3 linked regions of the Homo sapiens genome follow. The protein of the gene in region 1 purifies or fractionates together with the protein of each later gene. This does not show direct contact. Each region holds a gene or a part of one and is shown in the gene's direction. Other genes may lie near its edges. The genes, in order: LGALS9, ATP2B4 and SORL1.

Region 1 (3,749 bases):
TAATTTTTTAGAAGTAGAAAAGCCAGAACATAGAAGTAGATATTTGACTGTATTACAACTCACCAAGCAGTTTTTCTTTTTATTTTTTATTTTTCAATTTTTTGAGACAGAGTCTTGCTCTATTACCCAGGCTGGAGTGCAGTGGCGTGATGAGGGTTCACTACAGCCTTGACCTCCTGGGGTCAAGTGAGCCTCCCACCTCAGCCTCCCATGTAGCTGAGACCACAGGTGTGCACCACCACACCTGGCTAATTTGTTTGTTAAATTATATGTAGGGACAGGGTCTTCCAACCTTTCCCGAGCTGGTCTCAAGCTCCTGGGCTGAAGTGATCCTCCTGCCTCAGCCTCTCAAAGTGCTGGTATTATAGGCATAAGCCACCACGCCCTGCCCATTTTTCTAAGTTGGATTATTTTACACTCCAGTCTGCTGTGAATGAGAGTTCCAGTTGTTGCGTATCGCAATCAATTTGTGATTGCCTACAAATGATGTGCCGTGATGAAATTGTCCCTGGTGTCCGAGAGGATCGCAAAGAATTTCCCTTCCTTTCTCTCCTTTCTGCTCCCCTTGTACTGTCTACTCCTTAAACTGGTACTTGATCCAGGAACATAATGGGGATGGACAGTGCAGATGGCACACATGGCCTCAGTCTATTGGAGCATCTCAAAGGAATTAGTCTGCAAATTCTAGTGCATCTAGGTGGAGCACAGGAAGGAAGAGAGGTGCAGACTCACGTATGGCCCTGGGGCACCTGCCATCCTCTCGCACCCGTACAGCCCTTACCTGCCAGCACTTACCCTACCCAGCTTGAGTTCTGGGCCTTCTCACCAGCACATCGCTGGGACCTGGTCGACTTCAGGTAAGTTTATTTCATGGCTCCCTCCCCCACGACCTGCACATGCCATATGTTCCTTCCCAGCCCCATGTCACTTGAAATGTTCTATCATGTCCAAGACTTCTCTCCTCATCCTAAAGTGCAGAAAATAAGGATGGAGAAGAGAAGGAGAAGAGAATCAAGAGAGATTCATTGAGAGGGAGGATCAGAAGCTCCTGGGCACCCCATACTGTAGAATAAAAATATTCATTATGGTGTTTTTCTTGCAAAATATTCCCCTCTACATAATTATGTTTTTACATGAATAATATAAATTTAAACAGGAGAAATACTTTTTGAAGAGTCTGAGAATCTTCATAAAGTTCAGGCGGCCACGAATTAGCTGTGTGACCTGGGGCATGCCCCTTAGACTCTGAGCCTCAGCTTCTCTGTATGTAAAATGGGTTGAAGCCGCCCTTCCCCACAAGCACCCTGTGCACAGGCAATGCCCAGCCCCATTATTTTCTGGACTCCGTGGCCAAGCATGCTTAGGACACACAGCCACATACTTCTGGGCAGTGTCATCTGGCAACTTGCTGTCATGTCAGTGTGGTCAAGCATTGTAGACCTCTATGAACCAAATATGCTTCAGGCTTGGGTTGAGCACAGGAGAGGGAGGAGGGAAAGGTCACTGGGGCTGGGAGTGCCTACTTCCCTCTGTGAGTGTCACCCCAGTCCACCCAGTACCATACCTTTCTCTCTCTGGACCCACTTCCTTTTGCTGCCGGCTCCTCCCCATTGAATAACAGCCAAGTTGCTTTGGTTTCTATTTCTTTGTTAAGTCGTTCCCTCTACAAAGGACTTCCTAGTGGGTGTGAAAGGCAGCGGTGGCCACAGAGGCGGCGGAGAGATGGCCTTCAGCGGTTCCCAGGCTCCCTACCTGAGTCCAGTGAGTTCCAGGGCTATGGGCACAGGGCTGCCTCAGCCAGAGGGACACAGCTCTGGGGCTCTGAGGAAGCAACTCCTGGGTGGCAGGGGATGGGGGTGGGGGCATCCCAAAGAGAACACAAGCAGGGCAGAAATATCAGAGGAGGTCATCCTGGCACACCTGTGCCGTGCTGAGCTCACTCATGCCTGGAGGGATGCTCCTTCCCACGAGTCATGGCTTTGACAGTGTTGACTGAGCTGTCCTGTCCTGTCCTGTCCTGTGTGCTCAGGGGAAGACATGTAGAGCGGGGTGGTTCATGTAAAGAGGAAGCAAGCACGCTTCTGGGACAGTAAGGACGCTACCCGGCATGGTAGTTAAGGGTGCTTACTGTGAAGGTGGCCTCCCTGGGTCCAGCTATTTACTGGCTGGTGGTCTCTGGGCCTCAGTTTCCATATCTGTGAAGTGGGAATAATACTTGAGCCCCCCACTCCCAGGGTTGGGATATGGATTAAGGAAGTAGTGTATCTAGTGTGTTTGAACAGTGCCTGACACACTGTAGGTGCTTTGGGAGTGTTTCATGTTATTGGGTGTCTGAGGGCAGCAGGGAAGACCTCCCGAGGAGGTGTCTGTGCTCTGAAGGTTGGGCATGGGCATGTTCAGGGCATCTGTGGAGGGGCAGTCTCAGAGGTGAGAGGGGGGTGAGGACTGTCCCTGCAGCGTGGGGTCAGAGGGCGGCAGGTGCCTTGCTGAAACCCTGTGAGGTTTATGAGTCCCCTTCATACACGGAAAATCTGAGGCTCAGGGAGGCAGAGGCCAGTTGCCAAATGCCTCCAGATGGGAGTGGCAGCCCCAGGAGCCCAGGAGACTTCAGGGGTCACTGTGTCCTGGGCCGGCTCCTGTCATAGGATCTCACCCCGCCTTGGCAAAGAGCTTCCCGAGGGGCTGGAGAGGGTGGGCTGATGGGTCCTTCCTGGGTGGGGAGGCAGGGTGGGGAGGGTGGGCAGAGGCAGGGTACTGAGGGAGGGAAGCTGCCATGGCCCACCTCAGCAGAGGCCAGGGTCGGGCTTGAGTGCCCCCTGGTGACACTGAGTCCAGAATGAGGCTGCCTACGTTCTGGTCTGCAGAGCTCGGCTCTGCTTTCTAAACTCCAGAGAGAAAGAATGGGGAAAGGAGGCCTGTTTCCTCCTGGCTGTCACCAATGACACCTCAGCCACCCTGTGGAGGCCCCTGAGGTAGGACCTGCACAGAGGGGGCTGGGGGAAGCTGGAACAGGCCGCTGGTGGGGGCCTTAGGGTCAGCAGGTGCTGCCTTGGGCATGTCACCCTGTCTCTGGTTTTCTGTCAAAGAGGGGATCCCAGAGCTTCTTCCAGGTTCTGACATATTATTATTCTGGTGACTGGTTTTTACTTTCTAATCCTTGGATTCAGAAGGAAAATTATCCTACGGACATCAGAGAGTTAAAACAGGGCCTTGGAGTCCAGACAAGAAAGATGATCAGTGCAGCCCCTATGGGTGTCCAGAGTACCCCTCTACCCCACGGGGGCTCCCCTGGGTTGGGACAATTAAGCCTCACTTGGTGACCCATCTGGCAGTCGGAGCCACGCTTCCTCCACATGCCGACAGTGGGGGAAGGTCACGCGGTTCGCTGTCCTGCTGAGGAGGGCTGAGTGCCATGAGGGCCTGGCTTGGAAACCTCACTCCCACTTCTTGTCTGGCCTCATCTAGCCCAGCCTCTTTGGAGGGCCTGGGGGAAGCTGGAACCACGTGCTGTGTGGTCCAGGAAGCACTGGGAGAGCCAGGAATAAGGATGTTCTCAGCTTACTCATGAGAGGAAGCCTGTGTGGTGGTTAGAAGCGTGGGTGCTGGGGTTCAAATCCCAGCTCTGTTGCTGACCAGTTGTGTAACTTTGAGCAAGTGACTGAACTTTTCTGTGCCTCAGTTTCCTCATCTGTAAAAGTGGCCGGGGTTGCTGTGAGGATAAATGTTCCTAGTCATGCCCAGAGCCCTCA
Region 2 (3,649 bases), on another chromosome or scaffold:
AGCGGCGAACGGAGGCTTCCTGCCTCCCAGGTTGTGCCGAGCCTCAGACCCTTCTCCCTTCCATTTACCACCAAGTCTCTAGATTCAAGGTCAAGTCAAAGGAGCACAGCCCGTCTTACCCCTGGGACTCCCAGCGCCCAGCACGGAGCCTGGGATGTTAGAGCGCTGGGTCAAGGCATGTTGAGAGAAGCACGGGCAGTTTGGGGGCCTTGGAATCAGCCTGACGCCAGCGAGTTCCTAACCCGCCGTCTGGCCTCCAGTTTCCCCTCTGCACAATGGAAAGCCTGCTCTCCACGGTAGAGGTGACAGGGCGTGGCTAGGCAGATTTGTCACACTGCTGTGGTCTTTGTCAGAAGAAAATCAAAATGAGAGGGCCCAGTTAGGGGCAGAAGGAGAGCAGTTAGAATTTGCCGAAGGTGTGGGGGCTGGAAGAGGTAAGGTGATGTGTAGGGGCTGGATGTCCTGGGCCAGGATATCGGGAGGCTTTACTCTTCCCCACTCCCACTAACCGGAGGTCCCGAGAGGAACGGGGTCTGGGCTGCTCCCTGCCACCTGTCAGCAGGTCAAGCCTTCCACCGGAAACTGCCCCTTATTCAAGAATTTAGCTTCTCTCAAAAACTCCGAAACCCCTTTTCTCTCTCTCTCTCTCTCTCTCTTTTTTTTTTTTTTTTTTCAATGCTCCTGGCCTTGGACCCAGCACCCAAAGACATGGATTAGCCCTATCCACTAGGACAGAGCATTGCAGACCCACTAAGCCTTGGAGAGAGAAAAGGATCTTGTTCATTCTTAGTCCCCAGAATGACCAAGACAAACCCCGTTAGCCAAACCCCTAAAAAACTGTTTGGCTTAGGTTAGATTAGCTCCAAGTGTTTGACCTTGAAGGGGAACACCCCACCCAGAGTCTTAACTATCCTTCTCTGGAAGGATTCTTCAGGCAATCTGAATTCTTCCCCCGAAGGGCGCCCCTCAGACAAGGCTCCCTACCCAGCCCAGTTCCCTGCTTCTCAGATAAGCATTGATTCCTGTCATCCCAGTGGGTATTTGGTGGGTAGGGGTGAGAAGGAAAGAGGGATGAGAAAAGCAAGGCCTCTGCCTTGTCAGACTGGGATGACAACCTTTCTCCACTCATGTCCCCTTTTCTGCAGGTCATAGGATTAGAGCAGGCCCTGGGGCTGGAGTCCAAAATGCTTGTGTGGAATGTTTTGCCCTTGGCTTCCTCTGCCAGTATCTCTCCTTGTGTCCTCTTTCCTCTTTCCCTTGTGTGAGCCATTCTTGTTCCACTGACTTATTTCCTCTGTACATGTTAAAACAGAAATGACAGGGACTTTCTATTTCTGCCTCTACCTTAAGCCAGTCCTCTGTGTTCAGCCTACATGAACTTGAGTTGAGGAGGGAAACCAGGCAGGATCTAGTGAGGACCAGAGCCAAGGGCTCTGGGTCAGGGAAGAGGCTTGAGAGGCAGTCTATGTGTGAAGGATAGTGGAGAGGCCAAAGGAAAGGAAAGGATTGAGAACATAGGTGCCAAGGGGCAGAGCCCCCATTTCTACCTTTCCTCACCCCAGTTCCTCTCTGCCTAAGATCCTCAGCCTCATTACTCACCTCTGCTCTAGTTTCCCAAGTTTCATGCACAAATCCCTGGGACAACTCAGGGAAGATGAACTGGGATGGGATTACTAAGACCCCCTTCCTCTTGCCTTTCTGCCACTTCACTTGGGGTGTGGCAAAGGGAGTTTGGAGCAGTGCGTTTATTGGTAGGAAGGTCAGGGACTCTCAGCTAGGTTCAAGGAAAGTCTTAGCTTAGAACACCTCATGGCAAGGTCTACCTAGGTTGCGAAATCAATGCCAGGAATACAAACAAGTAGTATACCCTCAATACTAACAGCCCATCTAACATCCCAGGCTCCGTGCTGGGCGCTGGGAGTCCCAGGGGTAAGACGGGCTGTTAGTATTGAGCCCGGGAAGTTAGCAATATCTAACAAAGCTACGTACACATTTACCCAGCAATCCTACGTCTAGGAATTTATCCAGAAGGTGCTCATTCACAAATATGGAAAGCTACGTACAAGGTGATTTTTGTTTGTTTGTTTGTTTGTTTTTTGAGACAGAGTCTCGCTCTGTCGCCCAGGCTGGAGTGCAGCGGCGCGATCTCAGCTCACTGTAAGCTCTGCCTTCCGGGTTCAAGCAATTCTCCTGTCTCAGCCTCGTGAGTAGCTGGGATTACAAGTGCTAGCCACCACACCGGCTAATTTTTTGTATTTTAATAGAGATGGGGTTTCACCGTGTTGCCCAGGCTGGTCTCAAACTCCTGAGCTCAGGCAATCTACCTGCCTGAGCTGGGATTATAGGTGTGAGCCACCAAGCCCAGCCACAAGGTGGTTTTTAAAGGCATATTTACAATAGGAAATCATTGGAAACTATCCAAATGCCCATTCTTTAAAAAATGGTTAAACAAACAATGGTACAGTCCATACAATAGAATCCTAGGTAGCCAAAAAGAAAAAAAAAAGAATGACTAGGAGCCCTGTGAACTTATATGACATGATTGTTAGGATATATTATTAAGTGAAAAAACCAAGACATAGTACAGTATATAGTATGCCACCTTTGGGATAAGAAAGCAGGAGAAGTAAGAAATTTTTTTTTTTTTGAGACAGAGTCTCGCTCTGTTGCCCAGGCTGGAGTGCGGTGGTGGGATCTCGGCTCACTGCAAGCTCTGCCGCCCGGGTTCACGCCATTCTCCTGCCTTATCTTCCTGAGTAGCTGGGACTACAGGCGCCTGCCACCACGCCCGGCTAATTTTTTGTATTTTTAGTAGAGACAGGGTTTCACCATGTTAGCCAGGATGGTTTCGATCTCCCGACCTCATGATCCGCCCACCTCAGCCTCCCAAAGTGCTGGGATTACAGGCGTGAGCCACCACGCCTGGCCTAATTTAAGTACTTTTTAACCTTCATTCCCTGATTCTATATTCATATTTTAAGTAAAAAAAAAAAAAAAAACCACCTACAAAGAAATCTTGACCTTTACTTTGTAGACATGTTATTGGTTGTGGTATTTGTGTCATAAATTGGAAACTGTTTCGTTTATTGTATGATAGATGAAATGAGTAACTATGGTGATATTTCTGGAAATCAGGGTCTCACTATGGAAAAAGAGAGATATAAGTATGGAATGGGGGAAGGGGAAAAAGAATCTTTCGGGGTTTTTTTGTATATCTTGTGGGTCTGTCCACTGAAAGGACTGTGGAAAGGAACACACCTAGTACCTGGATTTTTATTTCTAAGTACAACTTCCCACGGGGGAGGTTGTAAGGAACAGTGCTCCTTGAAAAAATGACTAATTTCAAGTCTGAGACTGGGAAAGTATAAGTGAACTGTGTTGTGCCAGAAACTAGAGCATGCTCATGTCATGACATGTTGTCACAGGAGCTGGCTTAAAGGGTCTCCCGCCAACCAGAGGTGAAACACATTAAGCATTCCAAAGGATAATGGTAATAGATTGTAACACATTGAATATTAAAAATTCCTTGAGTCTATTTTGACAGTTGACATGGACAGGGAGGAGCAGGGAGGGAAAACTCTGAACAGAAATGCCAACGAGGCCAGACACAAGGCCTCACTCTGTAATCCTACCACACTGGGAGGCCAGG
Region 3 (3,749 bases), on another chromosome or scaffold:
ATGTAATGGTCTTTGGCAGGAGAGAGCACTGAGTCATTGCTGGAGTTCAGTTCAACAGAGCTGCAGCTTGGGAAGCCCTGTAAGCCCACAGCTTCCTCTCTTATATTAATTGATGGAATTTTACTGTATGTGCCTCTGTACAAGATGTAGCTTTGAGAGCTACAAAATGATAACACTGCTTTATTACACACTGGTTTCATTGTCATTGCAAAAACTTACCCTGGTTGTGGGGGAGAGTTCTAGATCTGTGCCATGATCCATACACTGGCTAATAGAGTACATAATTTTTCCATTTTCCATTTTTTGTTTTTACTTACTACTGAAGGATCTCAGATGTAAAATTATGTATTTGGTTTGAGATGGCCACTTATTGTCCTTAAAAATCCATACTGATATATGCAGTCATTTTGAATTGGACAGTGCCTTCTCTTTTTTTTTCTCCTCTTCTTCCATCTCCCTCACCCATGCCCCCACCCAATCTAAAGAGACAGTGCTGTACATTCTCATAGAGATAGAGAAGATCTAAAAAGTTGAGACTACTCAATCCAGTTAACAACAGCAGGAGCACTAGAGTTTGTTCATTTATTCTCTCTGTAAAACAAGCTGTGCTTTTTTTCTTCTGCCTTTAAAATGCCACCCGTGTATTCAAACCATGGCCACTTGATACTTATGTAGAATCCATCGTGGGCTGATGCAAGCCCTTTATTTAGGCTTAGTGTTGTGGGCACCAATGTCGAGCATCGTTGTGACTTGTGCTGTATGATTCTCACTGAAGAATTTCCTTTCAGCCAAGAAGCAGTGAGGTCTGGGAATATTCCAAAGTCATGTCTCTGAATATGTGTCCTTGACGTGCAAGCTTTGTAAAACCCCATCCCCGCTTAGGTGCGAGGCATCACCTTCTCACAAGTGTTTAGTTTCTTTTAACCACAAGTATCATTCTTGGGTGATAATATAGTTTCATTCTACTTAGGGATTGTTTAGAAAACAAAGAAAGAGCCAATTAAATTTTTTAGTTTTTGAAATTTTTATTTATATGTATACTTAGATGAGTATTTTAAGCTGTCGACCTTTAGTTTGCCATACGGGTAGGACTGTATTTCATGTTAACAACTGGTGGTAATGATAAGCCTTCTTCTAGCGTATTTTCTCTTCTTTCCTGTCACTTTCCTAAGTTTTTTTTTTTAAAGACTGGAATTTTTTTTGGCTTTATCTTGTCTTACCGTAGAGATTTGTTCAAAACTCTAAGCCCTACCACCTCCCCTTTAATAAGCTCTTTAAATAGTTGAATCATTAACAACCTGGTGGGAGGCAAGTCATTTAATTGAACCACTAGGAAGTGTATTTTCTTTTCTTTTTCTGCCAACTTTTTGGTGGCATTTGTAAAAGCTGATATAAAAGGCTCTGAGATGTTATTTTCAGTTATTCCATAGGCAAGCCTTTTTACAGAGCATATGTCTCCAGTTGGCAGCTTGAGATATTTCCGAGCATCCGGTTCTAGCTACCAGTGCCTCCCAATGCTTAGTGCACAGTACTGTAGACTGGCCATCACCCCTCTCCTTGGAAAATGCCACTGTGCTGTTTGAAAAAAAGCAGCCTTTTAGGGCTAGAGTATTTTATATAAACAGAAGAGCTAAGTTCCTGAAGACTAAGCTAGATAGCTGCAGCTATATGTAAATTGTATATTTTTATGAACTTTTGAAGCACACACTCCTGTTTCCCTCTGTGTAGCTTTGTGGGGATTTCATGTATATATGCTGTCTGAAAGAATCCAGAGGTTGGAGTGCCAATAGAAAATGAAAACAAATGCCTTGTACTACAGGCAGCCTCTGAAGGTGACCACATAACTGTCTTCACTGTGACCAATCGGAGTCCCTGCTTGCTTGTGAAGAAGGGGCTTTTGTACCTTGTTGGAGATGCCACCTCAGAAGTTCACACTGTGCAGGAAAAAGGTTTTATTCTCTCCTGGCATACATTAGAATGTCAGATGCTTGCATCCATGTGGACCACGATGGGCCTCTAAAAATTGGTGGGCAGGGGGTTTGCTTATGAGTTTTCTCTGGAAACCGATTTTACTCCTGGATGTATTGAATGCCCCTTGAGCTTTATGAGATACGAGTCCACATGGATAAAATGTTAGAGAGTGGAGTTCTACAGAGGATTCCAGGAAGAGGCCATGTCTGTGCAGTCCTAGTTCCAGACAGGTGAGAAGCTCCAGGAACTACTGGCTACCTTGACAAGCTGGGTAAATAGTTATCATTCTGGGTAACTGGTTGAAACTCTGACTTTTGGACAAGTAATTCCTGGGGTTCTGTCTTTGGTAGCATCACCAGGGATATTTGGGTGGGACAGACAGAAGACACACAGCTGCCTGTTCTCTCCTGCCCATCATGTTTGGCCCACTAGATGAAGCTGTACTCAGCAATTTAGGGAATGTAACCCTTCTCAGAACTGGCCATTTTCAGGGGAAGCTTGGGAGAGCAATAGTATGGTGAGCCCCTTAGAGATGAGCGCCTACTCCTTCTTGGCGAATGCTGCCTTCAGATGCTTACCAAGTGGTCACTGCATCTAGTAAGATTATATTTCCAGTACACTTCCTTAGGGCAGAAACACCATCCTATCAGGTTTGGTCAGTCCCTTCTTCATGAAGGGAGTCATGGGGAATTCCTGAAAATTTTCTTCCTTCTGCAGACAGTTGGATGAGTCCCTTAGAGAAGGCATCCAGAGACATAACTAAACTGAATATCATCCCATATTGATTTTAGGAATTGACTCTAAAACTCTGTGCAGAATCTTGTGTTGGGATTGTATCTTGACATTCCTGTTGTGTTATTTTTCTTAACTGGAGTGTGTGCTGCCTTTCAGGTACAATTTTTGTGTAATAAAAGCCAGTGCATTAAGTTTATATAGACTACTTTCTATGCAAGACTGAGATATGGAATAGATAGGAAGAGATATGTACTGCTGGGTACATGGACAGTAAGTGTGTTTTCAGATGGAGTACCAGCACCGAAAATGGGTTGAGGGAGGATGGGTTGTATGTATGTTTCTGCCCACTAATTTTGAGCAGCCATATTATGAATTAAATCGTCACAGCCAAGTAATAACCCAAGAATGGTATGAGTTTCATGTGTAATAGCTCAAATGGAATAAGCATGAATGCTGGAGTGGACCATTATCCTCAAATATTCTATGTCACTTCTCATTTAAAGACTCTTGTTATGAACTATTAGAAACTTTAGGCAAAATCAAAAGTATTTGCGGCAAAATAAAGGCCTATTCTACTCTTATTTAAAGTGAAACACTGTATACTTGTTTCTCTCCAAAGCGAAATTAAGTATTTATAATTTCAATTGCCTCGATAAGTTTCCAAGTCACTGAAATCTGCTGAAGGTTTTACTGTATTGTTGCACAACTTTAAGATAATTTTTGTCTCAATGTCAACTTTTTTCACTGAATAAAAATTTAACTGGGTCAAGAAAACACCTCTTTGAAAATCCACTGTCTCTGTGTGTCTCGAGCTGTTCTTTAGAGCGCAATAAAGATGGCTGACGCAGTCTCCAAACCCCATTTGATTGGTCTGTTTTAAACGGATGTTTATTTCATAGATGAGAGAACACCAAGGCCTGGAATAATTTTGTTATTAACAAGCTGGTCTCAGATGGTGGATCCTTGAAGAACACGATGTCTTTGTGTTGGTTGAGGAGGGGGAAGATGTGCTGGCTGTTTTGAAGTAAACAGAATTATTCCGT

The links.
Region 2: the proteins of LGALS9 (region 1) and ATP2B4 purify together in Homo sapiens (affinity purification with mass spectrometry; 4 studies listed by BioGRID and IntAct, with this or other methods). This does not show direct contact.
Region 3: the proteins of LGALS9 (region 1) and SORL1 purify together in Homo sapiens (affinity purification with mass spectrometry; 3 studies listed by BioGRID and IntAct, with this or other methods). This does not show direct contact.

What each region holds. Positions count from the first base shown.
Region 1 is NC_000017.11:27,629,544-27,633,292, forward strand, and holds the start of LGALS9 (galectin-9), read left to right. Parts: upstream 1-1,644; 5' UTR 1,645-1,722; coding exon 1,723-1,761; intron 1,762-3,749. UniProt on the Homo sapiens protein: Binds galactosides. Has high affinity for the Forssman pentasaccharide. Ligand for HAVCR2/TIM3. Binding to HAVCR2 induces T-helper type 1 lymphocyte (Th1) death.
Region 2 is NC_000001.11:203,629,715-203,633,363, forward strand, and holds part of ATP2B4 (plasma membrane calcium-transporting ATPase 4), read left to right. Parts: intron 1-3,649. UniProt on the Homo sapiens protein: Calcium/calmodulin-regulated and magnesium-dependent enzyme that catalyzes the hydrolysis of ATP coupled with the transport of calcium out of the cell. By regulating sperm cell calcium homeostasis, may play a role in sperm motility.
Region 3 is NC_000011.10:121,630,197-121,633,945, forward strand, and holds the end of SORL1 (sortilin-related receptor preproprotein), read left to right. Parts: 3' UTR 1-3,567; downstream 3,568-3,749. UniProt on the Homo sapiens protein: Sorting receptor that directs several proteins to their correct location within the cell. Along with AP-1 complex, involved Golgi apparatus - endosome sorting.